Homo sapiens: one gene and its partner. The protein of the gene in region 1 purifies or fractionates together with the protein of each later gene. This does not show direct contact. Each region holds a gene or a part of one and is shown in the gene's direction. Other genes may lie near its edges.

Region 1 (3,282 bases):
CTCTCTCTGTTATTTAGGTTGACACTTTTTATGGACTCATGTAGGATTATTCTAAAAACATATGATCGTGTGATCACAGCATCATGCAAATCAGTGTGTATAGTATGCTGCTATTTGTGGGAAAAGGGGGCAGAAATACTTTTTCACACTTTTGTATGCAAAAATGTCATGGTAGGATTTATAAGAGACTGATAATATTACTTTGCATCTGCAAGGCAAATAGGTGGTTGAGGGAAAAAGATGAGCGATAAGGTTTTAAAGGTATATATACCCTTTTGTATCTCTTAACTTTTTTATGTGTAAAATCACTATTGATTTCCAGTGCCATTGATATCTGCACTGGGAAGCCCCTTTGAATTTTGACAAAGACACTGTTTTTTGTTTGTTTGTTTGTTTGTTTTTGTTTTTTTTGAGATGGAGTCTCACTCTGTTGCCCAGGCTGGAGTGCAGTGGCAAGATCTGAGCTCACTGCAACCTCAGCCTCCCAGGTTGAAGTGATTCTCCTGCCTCAGCCTCCTGAGTAGCTGGGACTACAGGTGCACACCACCGTGCGGATTTTTGTATTTTTAGTAGAGAGGGAGTTTTGCCACATTGGCCAGGCTGGTCTTGAACTCCTGACCTCAGGTAATCCACCCACCTCAGCCTCCCAAAGCACTGGGATTACAGGCGTGAGCTATTGTGCCCAGCTGGGATCTTGACAAAGACACTATTTCTCTCCTTTCACCTGTGCTGTGTATTTTTCCCTCGCCTAGTTCCCAGACCTCACTGCTATATGTCTTCTCCCTGGCAGGCAGGATGACGCAAAACACGGTGATTGTGAATGGAGTTGCTATGGCCTCTAGGCCATCCCAGCCCACCCACGTCAACGTCCACATCCACCAGGAGTCAGCTTTGACACAACTGCTGAAAGCTGGAGGTTCTCTGAAGAAGTTTCTTTTTCACCCTGGGGACACTGTGCCTTCCACAGCCAGGATTGGTTATGAGCAGCTGGCTCTAGGGGTAAGACTGGGGTGGTGCGGGGTTGGGGGGCACGTTAACGAGGTGATGAGGTCAATTAAAATATAGAGCCAAATCTTCAAAATTAAAACGTTTTATTTGGGAGGAGAGAATTGCAATTTGGGGCATACACACAGACCAGGTGGTCTCCAGTATGTCTTTAGAACAAAGAGAAGGTTAGAGGCTTATAAAAAGGAGAAATGTTACATATTGCCCTTCATGAAAGATCATAGGTTTTGGGGAGCTGGTGAGCTCTGATGGGTGAGCGATGGCATGAGTAAAACTAATCCTAGAGTTGTAGCAAGGTCAGAAGCTGTAGATAAAGCTGGTTTCAGGTTGCAGCAGGCAGCTTCAGCAGCCTGATTTGTAGAGAATTACATTTTGGGAGCAACATTTTGTGCCCCGAGTGCTTTTTGCCCCTGGCCTCTCGACTCTGTTTTAGTTGAGTGTGACAAGAATGACCCCATTTGTAGGCTCAGCTTTCACAGTGGAAACTCTCCTTCTTCAATAGGATGCAAAAGAGGAAAGTGGGTTGAATTCCCATGAGAGGGACATGAGAAATCACTATTTATATCTCATTCTGTGTAGGAAAAAGTTGTAAGTGTCCCCACAGAAATTTGGATGGAAAGGAAGAATCGACCTCCTCTTTGGCACAGAGGAGTCGGTCCCAGCCAGAGGTAGGGCAACAGGAAGAACAGTCTAGAGGCTGTTAATTCGGTTTTATTGACCCCACATGGACTGAAAGCCTACAGGTGCAAGGCAATGTGTTCAGCACTTCAGGCCAAGCTACAGAGAGAATCCCTGGGCTATATCTAAAAGTACTCAGTGACCATCAGAAGGAACAGCAGCTACACTAATGACTGGAACTAAAGGTAGATCAGGTGAGGGAGAAGCACATCTGACATCCTTGAGGGCAGGAGAACCCTGAATGGAGAAGGAATAGGTATAGACAGAGGTGGAAGATGGACAAAAAAGAATTCCAGGTTAAAGAATGGCAGGAGCAAAGGCAAAGAGGCCAGAAGGCATAGGGCAAGTTCTATAATGGTTAAGAGTAAAGGGAATGGGCTTCATGAATGGGTGATTTGGGCCCATATTGCTGAGAGCCTTGAACGACCAGGTGAGGAGTCTGTCCTGAATCAGCTTTGACAGTGAGAACGCTGTCAATGGATTCTGAGCAGGAACCTGCCTCAGAGTCAGGAGGCATCCAGGTGAGAAGGATCGAGGATCTGCACTCACATAATCATAGCAGAAATGGTGAGGAGACAAAGGAGTCCCTGTCCTTCACAGACCTCCATGGCATGGGAGTGAAGGGGTTTGGGGCATAAGGAAAGAGAGGCATTCACAGCATGCAGAGAGGGTTGAAGTGTGGGTGACCAGGAGATCGGAGCCCTGAAAGTCAGGAGGAGCAGCCATTCGAGAGGTGTGTGTGTGTGTGTGTGTGTGTGTGTGTGTGTGTGTGTGGTAGTAGGGGATTTGGATGTGACAAATCCGAGATGCTGGTAGGATGTGGAGGTGGTGACAGTTGGGTTTTCCAGGAAGAAGAGGAGTTCTCTTCTGAGTCGGAGTTGGGTGTGTGAACGGCTTATTGGGGTATGACACCTATGAAATGAAAAGAGGGGGAGCAGGATTGAGCAGGAGGAACCATCAGGCTGCAATGCAGACTCTGCCAGGCCAGTGGGGGAGCTCCCAGGCAAAGGTTGCCCACTGCAGGAGTTCCACACTGGGTGGAGATGGCCCTTGAGCCACTGTCTTGCTTAATCATTGGCTGGGGGGCCCTCCTCAGTGTGTGTCTTCAGCTTGAAAAATTAGGGTGACCCTGAAGGAGCTGACAACTGCAGGCTGTCAGCAATCAAACAAGCCCTTTCTTGAAGGAGGTCTCAGCGGCACTTCTTTGTGTCTGCCACAGAGCCCTCAAGAGTGTGTGTTTGGATCTGAAGAGAAAGGATAGGCCAGAAGCTCAGGTCAGGCTGGGGGTTTGGATGGGACAATGGGACCTCTGAAGGAGAATGGGGGGGGAAAAGTGGGAATCTTCAGGTGGGATGAGAAAGTGTTGAAGTTGGGAAAAATTGATGAAGGATAAATAGCCAAGCCTATGAGAAGGGTGAGGGGAGACCCAGGCCAGTGCTGCTTCATGGATTTTAAGGGGACAGAATCTTCCAGAATCAGAGCTGCAGAGAGGTCAAGGCAGAGGAAAAGGAGAGGAGAGCCACCTAGGTAGGAGCCAGGCAGCTGGTCCCAGGGCAGCCGGGGCATGTGGACTCACGGGAAGGGGTCTGGTTTCTCATC
Region 2 (3,500 bases), on another chromosome or scaffold:
CAGGACCGCTGCAGTGTCCAGGCTGATGTCCTTCTGCCCACCTGGGCCTCTCCCCGTGGCTGAAGGACAGTGAGCAATGCCTGATTCGCCCCCATCCTCTCTGCCCCCACGCGGAGGCTGAGCTCCCCCTTTTCCCATTCTGTCTGCTGGCACTAGCGTATTTTTGCAGAGGGAGGCCTCCACACTTCCCCACTGGCCAGGGCACACCTGCACACTCAGTCCTGAGGAAAACAGCCACATGAACAGTGATGCTAAGGCTTTACCCTCTTGGGTAGAGGCTTCAAAACTCTCCTTTATATAGAAAAAAGTTTTGTCCTCTTAGCCCTCAAAGCAGAAGATGGGGGCCTCTGGCTAGCACCTGAGTCATTCTTCAGTATCTACCTGGAGGGGGCCCCTACCTTCCCAGCTGGGATGCCCCAAAGCTTCAGAGCCCTGCCCTGCAGGGAGTAGAAACCCATAGATGCTGAGTGCCAGGGCTACTGTTCCACAGGGAGGGGCTGGGGAGGGCTGCCTGTGCTTACCCCTGATGGTTTCTCTTTTCACAGGTGTCTGAGAGACGGGGCTGGAGACGTGGCTTTTATCAGAGAGAGCACAGTGTTTGGTAAGAGCAGGGTAATGAGCCGTGGGTACTGACCCCTTTTATCTTACTTGATCATGACTCTGACCTTTGAGCTAATTAGATTCCTAAGTTCATGGCAGACCATTTTCAAGATTCCTACAGGGCACAGCTCTGATTTTATGATCTTTCATATTTTAAATGATCAGTTTTCTTCAAACCTCCTGTGCCTACTGCCTTTCTCTTCCCCTCATAGACACCCATGCCTAGGTGCTTGGCAATGCGTCCTCCAGTCCTCCAAGACACATGTGCTCATGCAGAACAGATTGTGCTGGTTTGTGTTTCCGGTTTCTGGGTTCATAGAGGTTTTAGTGAGCATTAGAAATCCTGCTACTTGGGTTTTCTGCTCAGCATTTTGTTTTAGAGGTTTATCGGTATTGTTGTATACATGTCTAGCTCAGGGGTCCTAACAGTTGAGGAGTGTTCCGTGGAATACATCCACCTTTTACTTCTCTGTCACCATAGTGATGGACAGAGGTTGTGCTCTCTTTTCCTCTACCACATGCAGCCACACGACTGATACCTTCACCTGTGTTCCTTACTTACGTGCTGGACAGCGTCCCTCCTGGACTTATAATAAAGCAGTTGATGAGTATGTAGAGGCTAAACACACTGCACCCAGGACTAGTGGACATAAGCTCACTACATTTCATGCAAGACCAATAGAGACAGGGCTACTATATTCCACCCAGGGCCACTAGAGAAAGTGACAGACACCCACATTCACTCAGGACCATCAGAGACACACCCCACATCCACCCAGGACCACCAGAGAAAGAGACAACACCCACATTCACCTAGGACCATCAGAGACAGACCCCGCATTCATCAGAGGCCACCAGAAACAGACCTCCACATGCACCCAGGGCCACCAGAGACAGACCCCACATGCACCCAGGATCACCAAGCTGCTGTCTGGAATGACACTCTGCAAGTGTTCTAATTTCCCCACAACTTCAGTTAGAAGTATTTTTGACTTTCATACTTTTTGTCCGAATGATGGTTGTAATGCAATAGATAGTTCGTTTTATTTTTAATTTTCATTTCTCTGACAGCTGGTGAGTTTGATCATTTCAACATATTTGCTAGCCGTTTGGGCTTCCCTTTCTTATTTTGTGACATTTGACTACTTTTTAAATTGAGTTTCACACCTTGTTTCTGCATGATTTTGATTCAAGGACAGAAGTTCCTTCTATCTAGGTATCAAACTATTGCTGATTTTAAACTTTAGTAAAACCTCTTCTCAGTCAAAAATCTGACAACGGTAGTCTCTGTTGATCAAAAATCCTTGATATTGATAAGGTCAAATCCACAAGCCTCACCTTGTTGGTTTGTAGTTTTGAGATATTTCAAAGATGCCCTTCTTCACACCCAAATCATAATTATTTCCTAAAATAAGATTTGAAGATCCCCTTCCTCATCTATTTATATGTGCTCTACCTAGAAAGTCAGATATAGATTTGGCTTTAGCATTTTATCCCCTTTACAGTGAGGCAATTTACCTTACAATAAAAAAAGTATATTTTTTCTGCCATATGTGAAGCCAATTCTACACCAAGTTTGTATATATCCAAGTGGACCAGTTTCTGAGCTATTTTATTTCATTGGTGTATTTGCATTTTTTCTGCTTTTGTTACTGTGGCTTACCAATGGGTCTTACTATCTGGTGGAGAGAAAGAGAGAGAGCCAGTGAGAGGAAGAGAGAGAGAATGAGAGAGAGCTCCCTCTCCCCTCTCACTTTATTATTCCTTTTCAAATATACTCAGCTAAAACTTCAGAATTATTTTGTTGAATTTCTGGAAAAAATCATACTTTAATTTTGATTCGAATTGTACTGAATTTAAATTGTTCCATGAAAAATCAGCATATTTATAACATTAAGTTGTCCAGTCCATGGTGATGCTAAATCTCCCCCATTTGATCACACCTCTTTTTAGTTTCTTTGATAGAACTAAAATTTTTCCTTTGTGGGTCTGATGTGTCTTTGTGGGAGGCTAATTATTAGCTACTTAATGGTTTTAGTTGCTATTGTAACATCTTATAGTCCATATTGGTTTCTATTTGGTTATTGTTAATGAGGATAACATCTGATTTTTGTAGGTTGCTCTTATAACTTGTTACTCCTCTGAGTAGTTTTATTAGTTTCTGTTGGTTTCATTGGTTTTTTGTAGATGACGATATCATCTTTTTAAATAAGAGTGTGTCTTTTTCCTTCCAGTGTTTATATCTCACATTTCTTTTGTAAATTGTGTGATCTGGATATCTAGAATTGTGCTGGCATTGTAACAGTGGGCATCCTTGCCTTGTTCCTGATTTTGCGGTGAATGTCTACATTTTCTTCTTTTAGTAAGGTTTTTGCTGTAGATTAATGGCATTTATCAAGCCAATAACTTATGGCCAGGCGTGGTGTCTCACCCCTGTAATCCCAGCACTTTGGGAGACTGAGGCGGGTGGATCACATGAGGTCAGGAGTTCGAGACCAGCCTGGCCAACATGGTGAAACCCCATCTCTATTAAAAATACAAAAATTAGCTGGGCCTGGTGGCGTGCGCTTGTGGTCCCAGCTACTTGGGAGGCTGAGGCAAGAGAATCTCTTGACTCCAGGAGATGGAGGATGCAGTGAGCTGAGATCGCACCACTGCATTCCAGGCTGGGCAACAGAGTGAGACTCCGTCTCAAAACAAACAAAAAAACTTTACCGATTCTATCTATTACTATTTTTCTGAGGCTGAAAAAAAAACCACACACAAATAGATGTTGAACACATAAACAATCGTTCTGCATCTATTAAGATGAAGACGATCTCATGGTTTTCTGCCATTAAATGCAGATTACTTTAGTTTTTTTGATGTTCAGCCATTCTTTTGTTAATGGAATACACTGG

Evidence for each region. The genes of interacting proteins can lie anywhere in the genome.
Region 2: the proteins of TMEM176B (region 1) and LTF purify together in Homo sapiens (affinity purification with mass spectrometry; one large-scale study listed by BioGRID and IntAct). This does not show direct contact.

Annotation. Positions count from the first base shown.
Region 1 is NC_000007.14:150,794,083-150,797,364, reverse strand, and holds part of TMEM176B (transmembrane protein 176B), read left to right. Parts: intron 1-790; coding exon of another isoform or gene 791-795; coding exon 796-999; intron 1,000-3,282. UniProt on the Homo sapiens protein: May play a role in the process of maturation of dendritic cells. Required for the development of cerebellar granule cells.
Region 2 is NC_000003.12:46,451,406-46,454,905, reverse strand, and holds part of LTF (lactotransferrin isoform 1 preproprotein), read left to right. Parts: intron 1-545; coding exon 546-601; intron 602-3,500. UniProt on the Homo sapiens protein: Transferrins are iron binding transport proteins which can bind two Fe(3+) ions in association with the binding of an anion, usually bicarbonate. Lactoferricin binds to the bacterial surface and is crucial for the bactericidal functions.